Linked DNA regions of Homo sapiens: regions 2 and 3 are each linked to region 1. The links come from fine-mapping of genetic effects on gene expression. A gene starts in region 1. Each other region holds a variant in brackets. All regions are shown on one strand. Distances are between the middles of the regions.

Region 1 (8,000 bases):
TTTGCAAGTCACTGGCCTTAAAGGGGAAGAAGGACGGGGTGGGACAGAAGAGTGATACCTCCATGACGGAGCCCTCAGAGCTGTAGAGCGCAGCCAGCACAGATTTCTGGAAAAGCCCAGGAAAACTGTGGTCACTCCTCACATCCGGATCCAAGTGCCACTGCTTTAGGCTGAGCAGTGTCCTGCCCTTCCACCTTTCTCCCCTCCTCCCTATCTCAGAGCCAGGGGCAAACCCTGGGGGAACCTCCTCCTGTGTCTAAACCTGGCTCCTGGTCTCACTCGCTCCCACCCATCTTCAGGCTGGGAGAGGATGAGACTCCCAGACACCCCATGGAGGGTCCCCACTGTGAGCAGGGCAGGGTCTTACCGAGGCCACCTGGAAAGAGTTGTTTGTGCCTCTGTGGTCCAGGTCATGACACATGCAGGAAATAAACAAGGCAAAGATCTCGATGTCCCTGGTTGAGAGGCAGAAAGGAGAAAAAAAAGAGGTCAGCCCACAGTTCCCTCCCTAAATCCCCAAGAGGACAGACAGGAGATGACATGCCCAGGAGCCACTGGGACAGGAGGTTGGAACACCTGGGTTCCCTTCCTGGAAAGAAGCACTGGTTTGGAGCCCAGCAGACCCGGGTTTAAATCAGGCTCAGTCTTCACTAGCTGCTTGGCTGTGAGCAAGCCCCTCCTGGAAGATGGGGCTCACAGCCTTCCCCTCTAGTCCCCTGGGGCTAAGAAGATCCCATGAGGCAGTGCGTGTAAAGTGCCTGACACACAGGGGGTGCTTCCCTGTCCCAGGGAGGGGACCCCAGTGGCTGCCAGATGTGGGGGAGATGCAGCCACTCACTCGAGGTAGTTGGTGAGCTCCAGGTTCTTGTAGAGCAGGTAGCAGAAGTGGGAGACAGAAAAGGCGTGCATCCAGTTGTGGTAGGGGGGATCCCGGTAGCCCTTCTTCACCATCAAACAGAACCTGGGGGAGGGAAGAGGGCAGAAGAGGGGCCTCAGCCTCTCCTCCTCCATCACGGCCCCATGATGGCAAACTACATGTCCCCTCCATCCCTGAGGGACCCTCCACAGCCTTCCTTGATGACTCTGTCTTAGCAGGAAGTTCCTATGCACATCTAACTTAAACCTCTGGCTACACACTCTCGGCCTTGCCTCCAGGCTTTGCCTTGCCTCATTTCTTGCCTTTATTGACAGTTCAGTGTCTAGGAATTGCTTCTCATTCATGGATCCTCCCCACCCCCATAAGACTGGGTCTCCCCAGTCATCCTTAGAGAGATCCTCTCCAGAATGCCGGGGGCAACGGATGTGACAGTAGAGGAAAGAGGGAGGCGAAGACTGGGGCTGTCTGTGGGCGCACGAACCGGGCCAGGGTCGGGCAGTCAATTTTGTAGTTGTTGATGAAATTCATGTCCTGCAGCATGCTCAGGATGGCCTGGAGAGGGCAGAGGGAGGTATCAGAGGGGCTGCCAGTATCAAGACGGGGCCCTTGCCTGGGTCCTTCTTCAAGCTCCACACTCAAAATCTGGAGTCTTAGAAACTTACATCTAAACTAGAGAACCACAAAATAGTTGAAGCAACCGTTCTCGGAGCTATGCATTTTTAGAGATCTAAGAACTAAGAACTCTTGAAACCAAGCCCACACAAAATGTTAGAAAAACAGGGTTGGGAGGGATGCAAACCCTGAGGTCACATGCCCTGGGCATGGTTGGTCCAAGAGCAGCCCTTGGGATCATCCAGTCCAGCCTCTAGCCCCTGGGCAGGCCCTATGGCTTCCTGATGGCAGACTACAAGCCCCTCCATCTCTGAGGGACCCTCCACAGCCTTCCTTGATGACTCTGTCTTCCCAGGAAGTTCTTGATGCGCATTTAACTTAAGCCTCTGGCTACATACCTTCGGCCTGGCCAGTCAAGTGGAGGAGAGCAACTCACCATGGACGTGTCATCCTCGGGCAGGGAACGAGGGGTATAGGTGAAACTTGCAAAATTGGAGTCAATGGCAGCCACAGGCTGGATCCCATCATGGAGAAGTTTGGTATACTCATCATCGGAGACCTAGAGGAGACCAGCCAGAGCATTAGAAGACAGCCTTCACCCCATCTGGTGTCTTCACCCTCAAATTCCCATGGCAGGTGGGGGATCCGTCACCCAGAATGTACCACAGTTGGGCCACCACGCTGTGGACTGTAACTGGGCAGGAAATCACCACCCTCCCCTCACAGCCCTGCAGCCCACCCCGCGCGCCTCCCTGCAGGTGACCACCCTTTATCTGTAACAGCATAACCTTGGCAAAGATCGACAACACCCCTTCATGACACCCCCTAACCATGGCAGCATTTCATACACAGTAACTGTAGCAGTCCTCCTTTTGTGGAGACCTTTCTACTCTCTAACCTTAACTCTTCCTACTACAGTTTTGATCCAACTCACAAGGTCTGGGCCTCTCTGGTTTGGACACAGGTGAGAGGAAATGTCCAAATGAACAGCGACTACCATATACATGGAACTAAGCCAGCTTTTGTGACCCAGGGTAGGGAATGGGATAGATTATCAGCAATTAAGACTGCCCAGGGCTGCATGGGCATTGTACCTAGGGAAGCCATGGGGACGGGTCCTGGGTGAGCTTCCTAGCCCTCAGTAATTCCCAAGATGGGAATTATTCCCTGAACATGGGGAATACCTGGCTGAACCAATTACTCCCTGGGCTGGTTCCTCTGGCTACTTCCAGCCTTGGGACTGAGCTCAGAAGCAGCTTGGAGGAGAGGTCTCTAAGCAGGGGTGGGAGCTGCCCCTAAGGAGGGCAGGAGGCCTGCTGTGGCTCTGGGCCTATCCTCTCATCCTCAGTAGAGATTGATCAGGAAGCCCTGCCTGGCCCTGGGTCCCCGGGGAATCTGGGAGGAGGACCAGAGGTCTCTGCAAGCCTCACCTTCATGTGGTACATCATCATCTCATTGGCCAGGTGGCTGCGATACTGAGCCTCATTCACTTTTTTGTATAGGAGAGACTAGGGGAAAGAGGGAAAGATGGGGCTCAAGGAAGGTGGCTGTGAAAATTTAGCAATGCCCAGGACTGGGATGAAGGGGTCAAAAAGACACCCCACTTCCTGTCCCATTCTGGCCCCAGTCAAAACCTTCAAGCTCCAGTCCACAGTAAAGACCCCACCCCCACTTTCATCCAGACCCCGCGCCGGTTCCTCCTCATCAAGTTCTCCCAGCATTTGGTCTGGCCCTTTGCACTCCCCCACACCTGATCCAGGCTTCAGTGATGGAGCCCAAGGCCCATGGCAGGGAAGGAGAAGCAAGGAGGGGATCATGTCAGGGACCTTGGGGCTGGATTCCCAGGCCAGAGCGCCAGTAGGCCTGGACACCGAGACCCAGCACTTCCAAAAAAGCACTCGGCTTGGGTTGAGACTGCTTCCAGGGAAGAGAGGAGGTTTTGACAACGGGAGTTTCTCATGGTCCCAGGAGGCTGAGTGGACAGGGCAGGAAATCGTATGCCCAATTTTTAGATGGGAAACTGAGCCCAGAGGTGGCCAGCGTGTCCTGAAGGCTGCACCCCAGCGGCGGGACTCTGAGTGCCAGACCAAGGGATCAATCCACAAGGAGAGTCAGTCGGAGGAGGAGAACCGAGGGTCCTTCGTGGGCCCCGCCCCCTATCACCCCACACCCCACTCCCAACCCCGCCCTCACATGGGCGATGCTGATGCCGCAGTAGATGGAGAAGGCCGTCGCCAGGTCCTCGTCGAACTTGCTGAACCATGGCCCATTGATCTTGTTCACCAGCTCGGCCACACCGATGACCTCTGGGGAAGGGAGAGGGGCAAGGAACCACCGGTGGAGGGAGGGATCGGTTGGAGGGAGGGATCCGGCCGGGACCTGCCCTCGCAGTTTCCGCAGGTTACGTACGTCCCAGGCATGGAACCCGACTCCCTTATGCTCCGGGACGCTGGAGGCGGTGGGGAAGTGTTGCCACCCCCGCTCGCTCGGACCCGCCCCGCCCGGCGCAGGCCCCGCCCCTCCGCCCGGGCCGCCACGCGCACCCTGGTTCTCGTTCTTGATGGGGAAGCAGAGGATGTTGCGCGTGCGGAAGCCGGTGCTGTCGTCCACGCCGCGGTAGAAAAGCGGATGGGCATATGCGTCAGGGATGTTCAGGATCTGGCCCGTGGTCGCCACGTGTCCCGCGATGCCCTGATCGGCCGGGATGCGGATCTCATAGCTCTGCCGGAGCAGAGATGGAGTCGAGAGGAAGAAGTTAGTGACCCGGCCACAGAGGGGACTGTTAAACCTCGGGCCGCTCCCCAGCGCCGCCGGCGGACTCCCGGACACCCCTAGGGCCACATACTCCCTCCACACCCTCTCACCTCATCATCCACCACGCCCCCGTCGAACACCTTGGCCACCAGCTCATTCTGATCCAGCAGGAACACAGAGCAGCTGTGGAGGGAGGGGTTTGGTCCTCTGGGGCCTGACAACCCCCTCTGATCGCCCTCACGTCCCATAAGGAGGCAAAGGCCGGATTTCCGAGGCCTGGGAGGAGTGCTCCAAGGTAAGACACTCTGCTCAGGGCTGGCTGGCTCCAGAAACGTGTCCATTCAAGTGTTTTGTTTTTTTTTTTTTTTGGAAGCACCTACTATGTGCCAGGCACTGTGATAGGAGCTGAGGATCCAAAGCCAGCCCTGTCCCTGCTGTATTGGAGCCTACAGTCTAGCGAGGGAGACAGGCATGAAATAAAGGATCCCTCAAAAGGTGATGAAGTCCCGCAGAAGGCAGAGAAAGGGAAGTGGGTGGGGCAGGAAAGGAGATGATGGGGACTGAAGGCCACAGCCTCTCTCGCCCTGTCCCCTGGGTAGAGTCACTCACATCTCTGCGTTGCTGAGGTTTCTGGCCTCCGTGATGATCTCCTGGAGCAGGACAGAGACGTCATCTGGGGAAGGGAGAAGACCAGGCAGGGTGAGACCAGGCTGCCAAGACCTCCCGCCTCTCCTCTGCAAATGCCAGCCCCCATGCCCACACACAGCCAGGCAGAGAGAACAGTGCACTCACCCAGGTGGGTGAAGAGGTTCTTTGCCACTTGGAGAAGAGCCTGGAATGAAGGAAATGGAGATCATAGGGGGGTCGGGGTGTAGGGGTCACCCTATCCAACCTCCTGCCTCCAACAGCACCCGGGTCTTCTCCTTCCTTCCCTAGGGCTCACTGGACAAGCCAGAAACTGTCAGTGTCTAATTATATCATTTGGCTACTAAGTGAAGGAGTGAGGGAATAGCCCCGGTGCAGGTGAGGAGTCTCCTGAGTGTCTCAGCCGCCTTCACGCCAGCTCTAGCTGCCTAGGTGTTGCTGTAGTGCCCAAATTGAACACTAGAGGGCGATCACATACAGTGCCTGCGGGCAGTGGCGCGGGTCCTGAACAACTGCAAGCCTTCAAGTTATGAGGTTATGGAGCCACCTGGGGAAGGGCTGCCACCAGTCCAGAAAGACATGGGCATTTCCCTTCTGAATGGCTCTCGGGGCTGAAAACTGAGCGAGTCGGTGCCCGAGAGAGGCTGAAGGCAGGTCACTCACCTGGCACTCACACTTGAGTTTCTGTTCCTTCTGGAAGGCCAGGGTGCTGGTGAGCACGGTGCTGGTGTAGTGGAAGCAGTGCTGGATCACATGCTCGTCCTCGTCGGTGAACCTGGAGGAGGGGGTGGGCTCACTCAGGAGGGAAGGGAAGACTGGCTTCTCTCCCCACTCTCCTTACTTCTGTTCCATCAGAAGCCCACAGGGGTACCCACCTGCCAACTATATAACCACTGCACAGGCCCTTGGAACAGCTTCCCACCCCCATGACCCTGCAGACTGGGGGCTGCCCAAGGGGAGGGCTCCAGTCCTCCTTAGATGCTTGAAACCAGAGCCATACCTCCCGTCTCTGATTTGGGATTTACCCAGCCCAAAGCTGGGTCTCCTCCCTCAGACTAGAGATTGCCTGGGCTCAAGCTGGTGTTCTGCTCTTCCCCAGGCACACCTCCAGCCTTGGGGAGGGGCGGTGGCACTGCCCTATCTTGTGCAGCTCCTGTCACTACCCCACTCTCCCTGGACTCCGCTGGCCCTGATTCGGTGCCTCCAGAAATCTTAGGGTGGTGGTGTGGAGAGGACTGCTTGCCCTGCTCATGGAGCTAGCTCTGGTGAGACAAGATAAGCCCCAAATCCTGCTCACGTCATTCAATCTGGCCACCAAATGATTTGTCACTGGGGAGCTGCATGGGGCTGGGTGGACCAATGGTGTGGGTCATGGGAAGAGCCTGCCTTAGCCCACATCACGCTGCCCTGAGGTGTCCCTGCCTAAGCCCTTCCCCACTTTTTGGCTGGCCTTGGTGCTCCACCCTGGTGGGGCATCCCCCATTCATGCTTGCCATCCAGTGATTCGGATCTAGATCCCATCCCCACCATCCTGGGTCTGTCTGCACACCTTTCTTACATTTGTGGTCCCTCAGCTAGCCCCACCCACCTGTCACCCCTCAACCCAGAACATCTCTCAGCTTCAGCCACACAAAGATCCTCATCATTCTGAGAAAACCTTGGGCTCTTTCACACCTTCATGCTTTTTTTTCTACACTGTTCCCTCGGCCTAGAATACCCTTCTCACTCTCTTCCCTCTATGCCCTGAAAATGAGCTTCGAGTCTTATGAAATGGGGCCATGACTATATCACCCATGCCCAGTGCAGAGCCTGGTACAGAGGAAACACTTCGGAGGTCTTTGCTAATGTCGTCAGTGTATCCTATCCCTGGCCTTGCCACCAGCCCCATCCCACTCACAGCTGAAGGGCTTCTGGAGCCCCTGTTCTCTGGCTACTTAGCTGTGTTTCAGGAAGCTTCTCTGTAGTCACTGCACTGAGCTGAGCCCCACCCTGGCTCATGCAGTCATTCAACACTCACTCCCTGAAATGCGTGGGACACAGAGATAGCCCTGCCCCTGCCCTGGGCCTCAAAGCTGCCACCAAGGCCCCATCCTTATTTCCTGCTGATACCACCTCTTCTCCAGCTCTGGGGCCATCCTAGAACCCAATCTCACAGCCAGCAGCAAGAAGTCATGGCCCCTGCTGGACCCCCATTCACTCTACCTTCCCTTCCCCAAAGGCCTTCCCAAGGCCATCTGGTCAGCACTGGGATGGCAACATTAAGTGCTCAATATTTGTTTGCTGAATGGCATAAATTCTCCCACCATTAGGATGCCCACAAGTTCCAAATGCCACCAATCCCACATTCTCCCTGCCTCAGCTGATTCTGCCTTGCCCCTATCTTTGTTTCTCCAGGCCCACCCAACTGTCAACACAGTTCCATGCTGGTAGGTTCTGCAGCTCAGACCTAGGACTCCTGGATCTCCACCCTACCCCAGCAGACCTCAGGCCCGGGCTCTGACACCTACCTAGTCCCAGGCTCTCTAGTGTCCACCTCCTGCAGGAGCTCCAGGCCCTGAAACCCAGCCTGTTTGCTTGGACTCCAGAGACCAGCATCCTATCAGCATCTCTTTGCATCAGGACTCAGCCCCTCATCTGTCTACTTCTCCCCACCTATGTGACACAGCACAAACTGCTCATCCTGCCAGCCCAAGTGTGAACCTGCACCCAGGACAGAAATGGCTCATCAGACGCAGCACTGTTTCTCCCTGAACTAAGATCCATTTGCAATAAAATTCAGGCACCTACTGCCTGTTTATGAGTTGGTGTAGGATATGAAATTTATTTATGACACCATTTCTAGACCCCAGGTTTGTCCTCAGTTCTCGAGATATCCTTTCCAACTAAGCCTCCAAGCCTGCTTTCCTGTCCACTGTGCCCTGCCCACAAAAAAAGAGATTTTTGTGTATCATTTTTATAGCTGCCCTGTCAGGGGCTCAAAAGATCCACAGCTTTTCCCAGTCCCCAAGCATATTCCCTTTAGCCACTGTCCACTGTGTTGATGATGCTTTGTGGGTCCCAGAGGGTTCATCCAACCCAGAGCACACCCACCCCTCCATCTAGCAGTTTATAG
Region 2 (8,000 bases), 36 kb after region 1:
TCAGGATGGAGGGCTCTTCCCCAAGAGGAGCACTGTCACTATCACCTTCTTTCATGAGTGAGGACACCTCCTCCAGGAAGCCTTCCTGCGTGGTCACCTGTCCCCCTCCCAGGCCTTCTGAGAATTCCCAGGGACCAGGGGCTACAGGGCCTCAGGCCTCATGTAGTCCAATCCCAAGCTTGATGGGGTAGACTAAGGCCAGAGGAGGCAGGGAAGGATTCACCCAGGCTCTCATCTGGAGCCAGGAGACCCATGCTTCAGCCCAGCCCTTTGGGCCACACTAGGACACCTTGTCCCAGAGTCCTGCTTGTCTTTGGGGCCCCTCTAATACCTGCCTTGGCCAGGGGATGGGCTGAGCCCTCTCAGATGTCGGGTAAGGCTGAGTATCTGCCTCCAGGCCAGAGACTGGGTCTCTTATGTCCTCACTGTGCCCATTGTGTGTGGGAGGTAAATGCTGAAGGAGGCGGCCTGGCCTAGGGTTAGTGTGGGCCTGCAGAGGGCGGGGAGGAAGGGCCAGCCTGGGGTAGGGCTGGTGGGGTGGATGGCGGGAGGCAAGCCCAGCCATGCTGGTCTTCTTAGGGACAAGATAGAGAGCAGGGCACAGAGGCTGGCTGCCCGGTGATGCCTGCCCTGGGGCTCTCCCTGACTGTCCCAGCGTGTTTTCTCCCTGCCTCTCAGCCTCCCTGGGCGCTCTCTCTGTGCCTGGCCACCTCTCTCTGTCTGTGCTCTGCGGCATGTGTGTATCCCACAGCCTCCCGCTGCTTTGTCCTATGACTGTATTTGGCTCTCTCAACAGAGCTTGGCCCATCCCAGCTGTTCCCCAAACCCCAGGGGGAGGGGGAAAGTGGAAGTATGAGAAAGAGAGACAGGGACAGAACAAGTACCAATTCAGAAGCAGAGGGATAGACATAAGAGCCGGTAGGGAACCCCAGGGACAGGCGGAGGCTGGAGAGGCAGGGCTGGCTGGGGAAGCCCCTGAGGAGAAGTCCCTGAAGACCAAGGCAGAGTTGGGAGAAGAGCGGGGTCCACCCTCTTCCTCTGCACTGACTCCTGCCCCCTTTCCCTCTCTCTGCCCCTGCAGGAATGTGTGAGCACTTTTATTGTTCCTAAAAATAGCCTTTCTCTTTGGGGGGTTGGGATAAGCAATCTTCTGAGTGGGGTCCGTCTGGGGCACGCCTGCCCTCCGGGGTCCCAGCCACCATGCTCCCCAGGGCCGGGGTCTCTCAGCTCCTCTCTCCCAGCGCAGTGCTTTGTTAAACATAAATGTGACCCTGTCCCTCCCTTGCACAAGACTGTCATAGCTCCTGGGAACACCCCCTCCCCTCCTCCAGAGTGACAGGCTCCGAGCAAAGTGCTCAGCACACAGCCTGGAGCAGGGCTCGTGGTCACCTTACCTCATCAAGGAGCTGAGGGTGAGGAGCTGCTCGCTCCCTCCATCCAGGCACTGCCTGCTCTGGCCTCAGGCCTCTTCGCAGCGCCCCAGTCTGATTCCCTGCACCCCTCCAGCCTCCCCACTCCCAGCCTTTGCTCCTCCGTTTCCTGCACTGTGGTGTCCTCTCTTCTCTCCTGCTCTTCCTGCTCTGGCCCTCCAGAAACCCCCAGCCCTCTCCCCTGGTCTTGTCCTCCCCCTATCACTGGGACTCTCATCCTTCTCCCGTCCCCCTCACAGAGCAAGCAAGGGGCTGAGCCACAGGGCCCTGGGCAGGTGGGGCACCAAGGCACAGAGCCCTCCTCCAGTGAGGGAGAGAGTTGGCGGAGACATGGCAGGCTCTGGGGCCCCACGCACTCCCCTGAACCCAGACCTTCTTTGCCCCCCTTCATGTGCCCTCCCCAGCTTTGGTTGTCTTTTCTGGACCCCGGGCCTGAGTCTCTGTCTCTCTAATCAGTCTCCAGGAGAAAGCCCATCCAGTCTCATCTCCTTCCCACCTCCATTTTTCAGATGAGAGAGCCAAGCCCCAGAGAGGGGAGGCGATGGGCCTACGAGCCCATGGGACGCTGGCCATGGGCCTTGGTCACTCTGCCTCATTACACAGGGTCCCGGTCAGTGGGGCCACAGGGGCTGAGGCAGGCTGTCATACAGCCCACCTCCCAACATAAACAGCCCACCTCTCCACCCAGCCCGCCAGGCAGGCAGGCTGACATCCAGAGTTATTTTCCTTTGAAGGGCCCAGGAAGCCAGAGAACAAACATCCGGAGTCTCTGGAATCTCTCCTACTTTCCTTCCTCACATCCCGAGGATCTGGGAGCCAGCATGAGCATGCACACAGCGTGCGCACACACACACACACACACGCACACACTGGGCTGGGTAAATATGTCAGCCTGGGATATCTTGTGGGACTGTTGTGAATCTGTGGGTGCCTTAGAACCCCAAAGCCTTGAAAAGATGATGATGCCCTCCCACCAGACCCTCGGACCCTCTATACAATTCAAACTAAATTTTATCTTGGAAATGAAAATTAAAATAGTTTTTGTGTGGTTTTTCTGATTGCAAAATTCTGGATACACTCATCAGAACTGACCTCTCCTCTCACTCTGTGCAGAACTCCCGCTTTGCTGGGGACCTAAGCATGTGTGCAGCCTGCCCATTAATGGTCCATAGTGGCGAGCCCCTACGGACCATCACATCATCATGGCAGACTATGTTCCCTGGGTCACTGGGAGAATTTCCTTGTGAAAGTATGTAGGTCTGTGTCTCTGTAGGAATCTGTAACCCACATGGGTCGTGAGAGTGTAAACATGTGTGAGTACCCTGTGTCTATGTGTGTGCACTGGCCATCTGCACGTGGGAGTGACCATGTGGGCCTGCATCTATGCATATGTGATTCAGGTCATTGATGTCCATGTGACAGTGGTATAGTCAGTATGTGGCTGTCTGGGGTGCTGTGAATGCGCTGGTGGTTAGTCTTGTCTCCAAATGAGTGAGTGAACGTGTGGCTGAGAGTGGTGGAATCTGAGAGGGTCTAATTCTCCTCCTCTGCGCACCCCTGTCACTTCTCCCATCGCCTCCCTCAGATGCGGGCTCATCTGCCTGCCCTGCCACACACCACATGTACTGGACAAGTCTTTGGACCTTCCTGGGCTCAGTTCCTCATCCGTAAAATGGTCTCTTCCCCCAGAGCTGCTGAGAAGATTAAGCTGAGCCATCAAACCTTGCCTAAGCTGACTCCCAGCAGGGGGCTGGGGCCACCTGTGTGCACATTAGAAAGGAGGGACCCCAATTCTCTGGGCAGATGCGGGCCTGAGGGGAAAGGCTTGGTGAGGGAGAGTGGGCTCAGTTTCAGCACCACCCCACCTCTGCTGGAGCTCCTGTGCAAGGTATAGCCTGCACGGTTAAGAGACTTTGGCCTTGCAGGTGACCAAGAAAGGGCAGCTTCCTTTCTTCCTGCCCCACCTTCAGGTGTGCAGCCTGGAACTAGAGGGTCTCTGATTATAGGACTGGGGTAGACACATTCCAGATGAGACTCAGAGGACACTTACCCCTCCTCACTTCCCTGGGGCCCTGTGCTCTCCACCTACCCCTCAGTGCTCCCTCCCCAAGGCCCAGGAGAAGGCCCCTCAGAAGCCACAAGGGGGACTGACCAGAGCTGGGATGCAGAGCTAGGCCAACTGGGGCCTCTGAGACTCCCCAGTTCCACTCCCATTTTTGGAAAGGGAGACTGAGGCCCAGAGAGTAGCAGGGACCCTCCCAGGAACACAAGCGAACCCAGGAAGTCCAGACTCCTGTTTCAAGGCCTCTGTAGTTGGGTTTGAGAAGACCCAAGCTTTGGACTCTGTTGGCTCCTGAAAGGAGCCCAAGGAAGTGGGTAAAGGTCCCAAAAGACAGGCACTTTGACACCTGTGCCTCAGCTGCGGGTATGGACTCCTATCCACCCCCACCCTCCCGACCGGGACCAGATCCCCTACTGGTGTGATTAACCAAATTATGGGGCTTTTTCTTGAGCAAATTGCATTGGCCTAATTGGATGAGGCTGCAGGAGCCTGGGCTGGAGGCTGACAGTGGTAAGGACGGCAGGGGAGAGGAGGGGGCAGGAGTGAGTGGGCAGGAGGGGGTATCGCTGACAACACCAAGCAGGGGACAGAAGTTGGGGGAGAGGGAGAGAGGAGGGCTGTGGGTGTAAGAGGACACCTCACTCAGCGCACCTTCACTGTGCTCCTACTGGTGCTCCTGTTATTTGGGGACCTGGGGTGCAGGTGTTGAGGTTGCTGCTCCCCAAGAGACCATAGAGTATTTACCAAGTGCCAGAGACTGCATGCATTGGAGCACTGCTTCATGCAATCCTCCTAAGAGCTCCCATTTTATACTTGAGGAAATTGAGGCTCAAGAGATAAAATGACCTGCTGAATGTCAGAGCCTAGACAGGG[C/G]TGTCTGACACCACAGGCCCTGCTCTTAATCAGCACCTACAACATCCTGCTGAAGTGCCCACATCCTGCCTCCAGGAAGCCTTCCTGGGTATTCAGAGAAGGGAGGAGCTCGCATCTGGGCACAGACACCATTTCTGTTCCCATTCAGTGTTTCTCCTCATCTACCCTACAATGTCCATGCTCCCTCCCATACTCAGCAGCTGAAGCTGGGGCTGAGCCCACTTGAATCACATGCAGCCCGGTCACCTATAGCACAGCTTCAGTCCCTCTTACTCCCATGCAGAGTCCTGCACTGTGTCACACTCATCAACCAGGATGACACAAGAAGACATGACACCTGTGGCCTTCACACAGCAGGTCCCACCTGCTCGGTGACACACAGTCATTTCAGGGTCCACAGCGTCCCACTGTCCCATGTCACTGGGTGTCACAGGGCCACACACACAGTGATCTCTCACTGTCACCCTCACTTGGAGTCTCCCATATCTTCAGTGTTGCACCCATGTTCCCAAAGCCACCATGTCACCCTCACACAGCATCAGACACAGTTCCACACTGGCTCTGTGTCACTGTTACATTTCAGCATCATCCAGGACCTCCTAGCCTTAAAAAACAAAAATCCAAAGTCACATCTATTTTAGAATTTGTCTAGCAGGTTTTTCAGTCTTCACCGGAAAGCTCCCCCCACCAAAAAAAAAGTCTACCTTTGGTGAAATGACATCATGTCTGGGATTTGCTTTAACATATTTCAGCGAAGCAACCTATGAAATGGGAGAAAAATATTTGCAAAGCTTTTATCTGATAAAGAGGTAATATCTGGAATATATAAAGAACCCCTGCAATTCAATAACAACAAAAAAGCAAACAACCCAATGTTTTAAATGGGCAAAGGACTTGAATCAACATTTTCCCAAAGAAGATATACAAGTGGCCAACCAGCACATGAAAAGATGCTCAACTTCACTAATCATTAGGGAAATGCAAATCAAAACCACAATGAAATGTCACCCCACACCCATTAGGATGGCTACCATTAAAAAATAAAAGAAAAAAAAGAACAGAAAATAACACATGTTGGCAAGGATGTGGAGAAACTGAAACCCCTGTACACTGTCCGTGGGAATGTAAAAAGATACAGAAAACAGTATGGCAGTTCCTCAAAAACCAAAAAATAGAATGACTGTGTGATCCAGCAAGCGTACTTCTAGGTATACATCTGAAAGAATTGGAAGCAGGATCTTGAAGAGATATTTGTACACTTATGTTCATAGCAGCATTACTCACAATAGCTAAAATGTGAAAGCAACCCAAGTGTCTGGTGTTGGATGGATGTGGTCTGTCCATACACTGGAATATTATGTGGCCATAAAAAGGAAGGAAATCCTGTCACATGCTACAACATGGGTAAAACTTGAAGACGTTATGCTAAGTAAACTTAAAAACCAGTCACAAAAAGACAGATACTACATTATTCCAATTACTTGAGGTATCTAGAGTAGTCCAAGTCATAGAGACAGAAAGTAGAATGGTGGGTGCCAGGAGCTGGAGACAGAGGAGGATGGGGGCTGTCGTTTAATAGGTGCAGAGTTTCAGTTTGAGAAGATGAAAGAGTTCCAGAGATTGGTTGCAAAACAGTGTGAATGTACCTACCACAACTGAACTGTACACTTAGAAATGGTTATGATGGTAAAGTTTAAGTTATGTATATTTTACCACAATTTAAAAAATTTTAAGCTTAAGCAAAGGAAAATGAAAGAACAGATAGGGGGCAAGAGAGGAAGAAATGAGGCCAAATCCCAGCAACTGTTGAACTGGGGTGATGAGTATATGGCAGTTTCTTATATGCTTCTCTCTGGTATTGTGTCTGCTTAGAATCACCCATAATAAAAAAATGTAATCTCCCTTTCCAGCGATCATGTCCTTCTCTGCAGCCCTCACAGCCCAACGTCTCCAAAGGGCTCTCCAGGCTAACGTCTTCACCTCCCTCACCATCCTACACAGGCCAGTCTGACTTCTGGCTCCAGCCCATCACTGAAATGGCTCCCATTAGCCTGACTCACCCACAGTGCCCAGCACAGCACAATCTTCCGGTTCCCATCTTACCTGTGGGCCAGCACCATCCACACACCGACCCTCCCTCCCACTTGAGCCTCTTTCCTCCCTTGGCTTCTGGCTTCACACTCCTGGTCTCCTCTGCCTCCCTGGCCCTCCTCCTCTGTCTCGTTGCTGCTCCTTCTCACCTCCCCGGCCTCTAGACAATGGAATATTCAGAGTTTAAGGCTCGGTCCTCAGTCCCCACCTCTTCTGTTGCCAAGCTCCCTCTCTCCATTATCCCAGCCAGGTCCACGACCTTAACAAACCCCCCATGCCTGTCGACTCCCAGATGTATCCCTAGCCTGGCCCCGCTGCCCACTGCACACCTTCACCTGGATGCTTCCCTTAACACATCCAAAACAGCTCACTCGGTTTCTGCCTCCTTGTCCTCCCACCCCACTAGTGCTGACCCTCCCCCTTGCCTTTGCCCATCTCAGAAACATCTTCACCATCCATCGCTTGGTTCTTCAAGCCAGAACCCTGGAAATTGTTCTCTGGTTTTCCCTCTTGCTCATCTTCTCATTTATCAGCAAGTTCTGTCATTTCTGTTTTCAAATATCTCCAAAGTTGCTCCATATCTCTAACTCTTCTGCCATTCCATTAACACAGGCACCACCATCTCCTGCCTGGGCAGCTGCAGGAGCCTCCAGTTGCTCTACCCACCTTCTCTCTGCCTCCCCCTAACTTATCTCCCCTCCCCTGCCACGCACCATGCACACTCGCACACATACATATTCTGCAACCTGAGCAATCTTTTTCTTTTTTTTTTTTTGAGATGGTATTTCACTCGTCACCCAGGCTGGAGTGCAATGGCTCAATCTTGGCTCACTGCAACCTCTGCCCCCTGGGTTCAAGTGATTCTCCTGTCTCAACCTCCCGAGCAGCTGAGATTACAGGCGCCTGTCACCATGCCTGGCTAATTTTTGTATTTTTAGTAGAGATGGGGTTTCACCAGACTGGTCTTGAACTCCTGACCTCAGGTGATCCACCCAGCTCAGCCTCCCAAAGTGCTGGGATTATAGGTGTGAGCCACTGCATCTGGCCAGAGCAATCTTTTAAAACCATCCTTTGGACGGTGTTACTTTCCCGCCTGAACCCATCGGTGCCTTCCCATGACAGTGTCCTACACAGCACTGTATGTGCACATTGCATACTGTTACAACCATTACAGAGCATCACACATGTAATGTCAGGCCCAAGATCACACAGCATCACACGCCCACTTCCACACACTTGCTATCACTCCATGTCATGCCTTTGTTTACACACTCAGCCTCACTAGATCATATGCTTGGGACACACTCAATGTCACAATTCAGTGTCAGACACTCGAGCCACAGACTCAGGACCATACCTGCTACTGCAGCGTCATTTGCTCACGTTTCTGTATTTGATTCTCATGGAGACACACCCTCCATGTGCTCACTGTCACTTTCAGTGTCACACACGTGGTAGCATGCAATGTGCAATGTCACACACTCGGTGTCAGCATCACACAATCAATATCACACAGTGTTACACACTTGGTGGCACAGCCACTG
Region 3 (8,465 bases), 190 kb before region 1:
AGGAGTCTGTTTGAGATAGACAAGGGTAAAAATCAGTGGTGAACCCAGACAGAGGTGATATAATTAGGGGCAAGGCTCGAGGAAGGCATGGCACGTTAAGCTGATGGCCAAGGAATCAAGATCACCCACAACAGGGTTTCCAAGATAATCCCAATTTCACATCCTCAGCGTAGTTCTAAATACACTTCCATGTCTTTCAATTTGTGGTTCATAATATATGGTCACCAAACCTAAGGCCAGTGTAGTCAGGCCCTAGATGTTAGGACTTATTACAGTATGGACCCAGACTAGGCTCTCTCTAGGCAAATGATCCAGAACAGTATGATGGGGCTGGCATATCTCTTAGACTCGGGTGAAAATAACAACAAAAAGAAAAAACAATATTAATAACAGCAGCAGATACCTACTTATTCACTACACTAAGTAGTTTTATGTGCATTTTAATCTTTGCAACCACCTTATGCTGAGGTAGGTGCCATTATTATTCCCATTTTGCAGATGGGTAAACTAAAAACCATAAGAGGCACAGCAAGGTCTTCAACACAGGCAGCTTCACTCCAGAGCCCCTATTCTTCACTACCATAGTATACATAAGTAGACTGGATGCTCCCCAAAGCAGGGACTGTGCCTTGACTATTTCCATCTCCACACACATAGGGCCTATACAGGGCAGTAAATATTTGCTGAATCAATTCACTTCTGGGGCCTGATGTTGCACAGCAGACAACATATTGGGTTTTTAGTCAGCTTCTAGACTTTACTTTTAGTATTGCTAAGTTTTGCACGTTGGGTTTTACAGTTGGTTTTTAATTGTTGACCCATATACTTATCCTTGTTAGTTTTTATCAACACAGATTTAACCATTGCTCTAGCCCACTGAGGTTTTATTTAATGTCCCCTATTTTTTCACCCAATATATTAGTACCTCCTCAAGCTTCATTAACTCTGTTGGCATTTATCAATGACCTCAATGAAATCAGTGATATAAAATACTGAACAGGACAGAGCCCCATTGCTCACCACTCAAGCCTGCTCTCTAGTCTGATGTCCATTCATACATAAACAATGAACCAGGTCATTTACATTTACTAGTCTGACTATACTATTTTTACATCATAATTTTACTCATATAGATGTCATTAGAGACATCCAAATATCTTACTAAAAGCCTGAAACACCCATGATATCTACTGCCGACCCCTGGCCCACCAGCCTGGCAGCTCTGTTAAAATAAGCAGCTTATGGTACAGCTGTTTTTAAAGAAGTCTCTTAAAGAAGAGGTATAGAACTAGACCATCTCACAGTTCCTAGAGATGGAACACCCTGCCCCAAGCAGCTGAACTGAATGAACACTGGATGCTTTCCTATCCCCAACTGCCACTCTCCATAATGAACACTGGATGCTCTCCTATCCCCAACTGCCACTCTCCATAATGAACACTGGATGCTCTCCTATCCCCAACTGCCACTCTCCATGAAGACAGCACTGAACACAGAACCCCAGGACAGAACAGAGCATTGGGCCCAGGAAGTATACCCTGAGACTGTCACGTTAGGCAAATGAGCTGGCACTGATTTCCAGGGAGCAGCGTCTTGAGTTGCCTGAGGTTGAGGCATGTGTCTGCCAAACTACGAGTGCATGCTGGAATTGGAATATCATTACCACAAAACAGGATTATCTTGAGCAACGATTCCAAATGGGATTAGAAATGACTCTTTCTTACTCAGAGATAATCGGCCATAGCAGTAGGGGTGGGAGAAACGTCAAGCCCAACACTTTCCTGGGGGCACGGTGCTGCGGTGCTGGCATTCTGGGCACTTGGCCAGCACCCTCACCCATCCTTCCTTGCTGGGGAATACTGGGTACTGTCCTGCACTGGGCAGGTGGCCACCTGTAACAAAAGCCAGCCTATATCAAGGTACCCTGCTCAGGGGTCCCATGTTCTTGGGTTCCCTGCCGGTTGCTTCTACGAGCACATCTCTGCTTTCCACCTTTGTGAGCCTATGCTCACAATGGTCCTTCTGCAAATGCTCTCCCCCTACTCCCTATGTTACCAATCAAATCCTGCCCAACTCCTCTGAAAGGGCCTCTTTTCATGATGCTGGCTCTACACAGCATCATCTCCTCCACAGCACTCTATGTGTTCTTCTCTGTGGCACTGAACACATTCTGCCTCATTCTCCAAAGCGGGACTTTTATCCCTTTTCTGAGTGTCAGCTTTCTGAGAACAAGGAGAGTGGCTTGTCTGTTTTTACAGTTCTCAAAATCCATATAATACATCATGGGTCATCAAGAAACCCTGATAGAGCCGACTTGACTCCTGGTTCCAGCATCCTTCGGTCCATCCCATGGCCTTGCTCCCGGCCCCTTCCCTCCATAGGCAGTGTAGTCCAGTGGAAAGAGCAAGGGTTTGGGGTTCAGAAAGACCCAGCTTCAAATCCTGGCTCCTTCTTTTACTAGCTGGACAACCTTGGACAACTCTGAGCTTCATTTTCCCTATCTGTAAAATAGGAATAATAATCCCTTCCTTTCAAGATTGCCCTGAGGATTAGACCCAACATGGGAAGTGCTTGACATGGGCCTGGCACACAGAAAGCACCCAATCAACTACTGCCATCATCATTACTACAGTCAGGAGATCACACAGCACAAAGCCCAGCCTCCTTGGGCAGAAGGTAGCCCTACTCTACAGCACGAAGCCAGACCAAGAATAGGTTAGAAGACGGAAAAGGCTCTGTGCCCCTAAGGCAGGACCGACTTCCATGTGGTTGGTCAGGTTCCCTAAGGACCTACTTTCAAGCACAGGTACACTGGTACTCTACCTGCTCCACGTATAGCTAGCCAGGAAGGAAGCAGAGCCTCCCAGGGAGGCTGCCAGTAGTCTAGCTGCAAGATTAGCATCTGCTCTTCGCTCTAAGAACACCCATGGAGCTGTTGGGGTCCACAAAGGAAGGCCTTTAAAACCTCTTCTGTAGGACAGCAATCTGGCTTAGGCTATCGGTTTTTTAAAGAAAGGGTTTAATGCACCCTCTCCCCTTAGTAAGGCAGAGGGAAAATAAGCAAATGCTAAAAATAAATGACTGCTGTGAGAGGGAATTGAATGGTCTTCAGCCAAGGATGGCAGCACTTTAAAATTAACAAAGCCCGGGTACCACATCCAGGAAGGCCTTGGCAAATGCGTGTTATCCACTCATTAGCTCAGTTCCTCGGGGACCCTGGCCAAGCAGGGAAGGCAGTGCCGGGAACCAGTCCTTCCGACACTGATGAAATGCACTCGGGGAGAAAAGGCAGAAGGAGGGAGGGAGACTCTTGTGGGGAATTTCAAACAGTTCTGATGTGCTTCATGCTCTGCCTTGCAGTTCTCACCTTCTCCGAGGCAAAGGCTTGCAAAAGCCACCACCAAGCCCAAGCAGGATGAAATCAAAATCTCCCCACACCAGCCTCCCTTTTCAGGATCTTTGGTTCCTGAAGCACCACAACGGCCTCACTATATAGGTGGTGTCCCTGCATGAGAGTCCAGAGATAAGGAACCCAAGAATAGTGTGGGAGAGGCAAGCTCCCAGTCTGTAACCTCAACTTTCTCCTTGCTGGAATGAAGAATCATATACTTTATGAATTTATACAAGTCCACTGTACACTACTCATAAAGTGAATTTATCACTATTCATCAGTAATTATACTTCATTACATCACTGATAGTATGAATTGACAAATCTTCATTCCCTACTAAAAATCAGAATGCATATCACTCTAATGTGAGATATCATCAACAATAAGAATTCAAAACATTCCAGGTGACCATTAACAATATGAATTAATTTTGATACTACTAATACAAATTCTCAGTATGCCACTGGTCACAATTAATAATGAAAATTAGAGAGGGATGACAGCTTTTTAAAAAGTGTTTAAAGTCAGTTTACTGAAGTATCACATTTACACAGAGTAAAATTCATCCTTTTTAAGATATATAATTTAATGAATTTTGATAATTATATACATTCATGTAACCAGCATGATAATCAGGATACAGAATATTTCTCCATCATCCCAAAAAGTTCCTTTATATTCTCTTCCCATTCCCAAACACTGGCAACCACCAATCTGATTTCTGCCCCTAAAGTTCTGTCTTCTCCAGAATGTCATATACATGGAATTACAGAGCAGGTAGCTTTTTGTGTTGGTTTTAGCTTAGCATGGTGCTTTTGTTGTTGTCATTGTTTGTTTGGCTGTTTTTACCGTATGGATATACCACAATTTGTTGGTCCATTCACCAGTTGATGGACATTGCATTATATCCAGTTTTTGGTGGTCATGAATAAAGCTGCTATAAATATTTACATACAGGTATTTTTGCAGACGTACATTTTTATTTCTCTTAGACAAATACCTAGGAGTTGCTATTGCTCTGTGGTATGGTAAATGTATACTTTACCTTTATAAGAAACTGCCAAAGTGTTTTCCAATGTGGCTATACCATTATGCATTCCTATCAGTGATGTATCAATATTGTTCT[G/A]TATCCTTGTCAGCCCTTAGTATTGTCAGTTTTCCTAAATTTTAGCTACTGTAGCAGGTATGTAGTGGTATCTCATTGTGACTTGAATTTGCACTGAGTATGTTTTCATGTGCTTATTTGCCACCCATCTCTTTTTCGATGAAGCATCTGCTAAAATATTTTGCCCATTTAAAAAAATTAGATTTTTTTTATTATTGATTTGTAAGACTTCTTTATATGTTCTGGGTACTACTGCTTTATAAGATACATGTTTTTACAGCTCCTTTTTTATGAATTAGAAATTATAAGAATCTAAGTCTTACAATTTTTCTTCTAAACCACTATCCTCTGCACATATACTCTAATTAAGGGACTAGGAACAACTTAAACTTCTAATTTACAAACATCTTAGTGCTGCTGGAACAGAGGGCCAAGAAGTACTTAAACCGTGCTAAAACTCATGAGACTATTTTTATCTCCATTGCAAGCACCTAACAATACCAGAGCTTTAAGGAAAGCTACATCTGGAGAAATGACTGTCCTATGAACAGCTTTTGGCCCCCCAGGCTCTGCACCTCCCAAAGCCCTGTTCTGGTCCACCAGACTTCTGGAATGGTCAACAGTCGTCACACTCCATTGCTGGCCATTGTTCACTGGGAAAGGTAGGAGGCTCCCAATCCATCCCTCAGTGGAAGAGCAAATAGTGGGGCCTGTGGCTGCTTGGACATCAAAGTTGAGCAAACAGGCCTGGCAGGCCCTGCCTCTCCGCCTACACATCCTGCAAATGCCATCTGAAGGAGCTTCCCCAAGGGGGTCATGACTTTCAGCCTGTCATAGAACACATCAAAGTTTGCACCACACACGAACTGGGTGCATGGGTTCGAATCAAGTCGCCCGAGAGCGGATACTCAGCCATTGTGTCCAGTTTTAATCCTGTGTTTTCCCAAGTAATTAAGCCTTCTTGCTTATGAACTTGTGACTAAGTAAAGCATCACCGAGAGGTTGTAACATCAAAGTGCCTTCCACCGTCTGTCCGTGTTTGGTAAAATTGGATTTCTTTTCCTTCTTAAAGAAAAACTAATTGAATTTAGCTGAAGGCTGTGTATATTTGCACAAGCCGGTGAAGGCTACGCTAAGTCACAGTGATCATTCTGGGACCCTGTGGCTTAGCCTTTAGCTGGACTGGGTCAGAGTGCAATATAGAATGAGACACCCAGACTCAGGCTAAACAAGTGCCTTGTGGCATGAGGCTTATAGAGGGCTAACTGTGGAGAAGGGGCCAGACCCCAATGACTGTTCCTTGAGTCAATACTATACCCAAGCTGTTACTAGGGCTGGCAAAAGGATTGTCCTAGTAGAATGTTGGTAAAGCTTTGGCAGCACGGCTACTGAAGACAATGGCCATCACATTACTCAAGTCCTGGATGTCGGCAGTCCAAGTAAGCTTCTTAAGGCAAAAGCTGTGACTGCTTATTCTCTGAATCCCTGATAGCCTAGCACATTAGCACCTGACACCACAGAGTTTTTAAATATGTTTGCTGAATATACATAATGATAATATATATTTTATATATATAAAACCATAAATATATATAATACATAAAGATATAACTCTCTGTATCCCTTTTTTGCCCTATCAGGAAACTTCAATCTAAATTAATACTCAATTTCCCTAATTACTTAATTTACAGTAAATACAGCATGGTCCCATTCATGTTAAATTTGTACATAAACATATATATAACAATCAATTTCCAGATAAAGGGAATTCAGGTGACTACTATTTTATGTATGATTTTTACAAAAACAATAAATCTATTTTCAGAAAAGAGAATCTCTGGTTCAATCTTTATACAATTATCTTTCCTTTAACCAATATGATTTCTGATCTTGATCCAGTTTTCCCTCTCCTGTGTATATTTATATTTGTATTTTAAGTCACTTCAAACTCTTTTTGGAAATAAAAGGAGAAAATAAATTATAAATTAAATTATTGTGCATATTTTTAAAGTGTAGTTCTATAGCACTGTTATTTCCTATTCAAAACCAAATAAAATGTACATACAGACCTAGAAATTCATAAGACATTAAGCTCCTTAAGGACAGAGACTATTGTATTCTATATCCCTAAAGACTTAACATATTATTAAGCAGCATCAGGGTGAAATGATTGGGCTACTCCGAGGATCTCTCTCTTGAGCTTGTGGCTGCCTACATCCTAAAGGAGGTGAAGGAGGTGAAGGTTCTCTGCTTTCAGCCTTGAATCAAGGGTGCTCCCCCTCTATCTTCCCTTCATCGAAATCTAATTCAAAGGTGGTAGCATTTCAGGCCTGACCAATATGATTCTGGAAGGATTTGGAGATTGATTATATGAAAATCAGTATATTTCTAATAAGGAAAAACTTATTGGCAGATTGTGCTGGTATGGATATGCTAATCCTCCAAGACTACTCACAGGGCACCTTAACAATGAGGCCTACTCACCCTGACCAATGTACTCCTGGTACTCCCTTTTTAACAAGTTCTACTTTTCCTTTTTCCCACGGCACTTATCTTCTAATATATTAAATAGTTTACGCATCCATTATACTCATTGTTTATTGTCTATCCACATCTTTCTCTACCAAAGGACCACAACTAATACAGAAATAAGCTCTATGTGGGCAGGGATCTTTGTTTTTCATCAACATTATTTCAAGTACATAGAACAGTACCTGGCAAACAGTAGGGGCCAAAAAAAAATTCTGCGATATGAATACATAAATCCAACCCAAGAGTGTGCTATTTTCAGTAAAAATCTGTCCTCCCTGGATAGTGGAAGAGAAGGTCACAAAATGGATAATTAGTCCTAGGAACCAAAGCAAGTAAATATAAGCCAACACTCTCACTTTGCTCAACAAGCATCACTGATTTGCTAACAGCTCTGGATAAAGACAGAGCAATCAGTTAAGCCAACAACTCATTAGATTCAAAGAGATGTGTCCCCAAAAGCATATCTACTAGCCATCTGATCACTAATTGACAGTATTTTTAAGCATCGTGTTGTTTCCTATTCAGTCTCAACCTTGAAAATACTACACACAGAAGGGAACACACCTCTCCACCTCTCCTTCTTTAGCACCACTGGCTATTTCTTGCAGAGGGAAACAGCTACAAGCTGGGGGAAAAGACTGGTGCATGTGGTGAAGTACCAGCGGTGTAGAATAACACATGTGTTTGTGTACAGAGATCTAATGGGGGCATCAGGGACTAACAACCCACCTTTATAACCTGTAGCACATACATTACCTTATTTGATTCTCCAAAGAATATGGTGAGGATCTACTATGCTGCCACATTGAGTCCCCTCACACCCTTTGCTTCGAGGGTATCCCATACATACTGCTCTGAAATCACTGATCATACTATACTATGTCTCCTTACCTGCATTTGTTTTCCCCATTAGACTGCAAACTCCCCAAGGTCTCGGATTCTGCAAACACTAGCACAGGGCCTGGCTCAAGGCAGATATTTACCTAATGTTCATAGAAATAATTAATTTCTGATGAAGAAACAGGCTGTCCATGGAGTTCTGAAATTCAGTTAAGGCTTGGAACCAGGACTGGACTCTAGGTCTCTCAACTACGAAGCCTATTTATATCAATTTTGCTTTTAAAGAATAGGTGCGCCAGACATGGTGGCTCACGCCTGTAATCCCAGCACTTTGGGAGGCCAAGGCGGGTGGATCACAAGGTCAGGAGATCGATACCATTCTGGCCAACATGGTGAAACCCCATCTCTACTAAAAATACAAAAAAAATTAGCTGGGTGTGGTGGTGTGCGCCTGTAGTCCCAGCTACTCGGGAGGCTGAGGCAGTGGAATTGCTTGAACCTGGGAGGTGGAGGGTTGCAGTGATCCAAGATCGCGCCACTGCACTCCAGCCTGGCAACAGAGTGAGACTCCGTCTCAAAAAAATAAATAAATAAATA

What was found. PIP is the estimated chance that this variant, and not a neighbour inherited with it, causes the effect. A credible set is the group of variants that fine-mapping cannot tell apart.
Region 2: its variant is the best candidate, but not a certain one, in a credible set for the expression of PDE2A-AS2 in whole blood (INTERVAL, PIP 0.71).
Region 3: its variant is the best candidate, but not a certain one, in a credible set for the expression of PDE2A-AS2 in whole blood (INTERVAL, PIP 0.50).

What each region holds. Positions count from the first base shown.
Region 1 is chr11:72,580,519-72,588,518 of GRCh38, forward strand. PDE2A-AS2 (PDE2A antisense RNA 2) reads left to right here and starts at 4,088. Exons shown (of 2, transcript XR_001748291.2): 1 at 4,088-4,538; 2 at 7,283-7,688. PDE2A (phosphodiesterase 2A) reads right to left here. Exons shown (of 31, transcript NM_002599.5): 14 at 5,552-5,663; 15 at 5,036-5,075; 16 at 4,853-4,916; 17 at 4,354-4,426; 18 at 4,033-4,210; 19 at 3,683-3,795; 20 at 2,920-2,997; 21 at 1,926-2,048; 22 at 1,359-1,429; 23 at 839-961; 24 at 368-455; 25 at 59-106. RefSeq lists enhancers at 3,771-4,294, 4,295-4,816 and silencers at 3,919-4,028, 5,259-5,358.
Region 2 is chr11:72,616,780-72,624,779 of GRCh38, forward strand. The region is part of intron 2 of PDE2A (phosphodiesterase 2A); the gene reads right to left. It overlaps LOC105369377 (a long non-coding RNA gene), which reads left to right. Exons shown (of 4, transcript XR_001748292.2): 4 at 2,165-2,410. It also overlaps the pseudogene RNU7-105P. Among named protein-coding and RNA genes, the nearest start is that of MIR139, 5.6 kb to the left of the region's middle. RefSeq lists an enhancer at 1,602-2,121. The variant C/G (reference allele first, on the strand shown) is at 4,366.
Region 3 is chr11:72,392,997-72,401,461 of GRCh38, forward strand. All of the region lies in intron 3 of CLPB (ClpB family mitochondrial disaggregase), which reads right to left. Among named protein-coding and RNA genes, the nearest start is that of CLPB, 37 kb to the right of the region's middle. The variant G/A (reference allele first, on the strand shown) is at 4,518.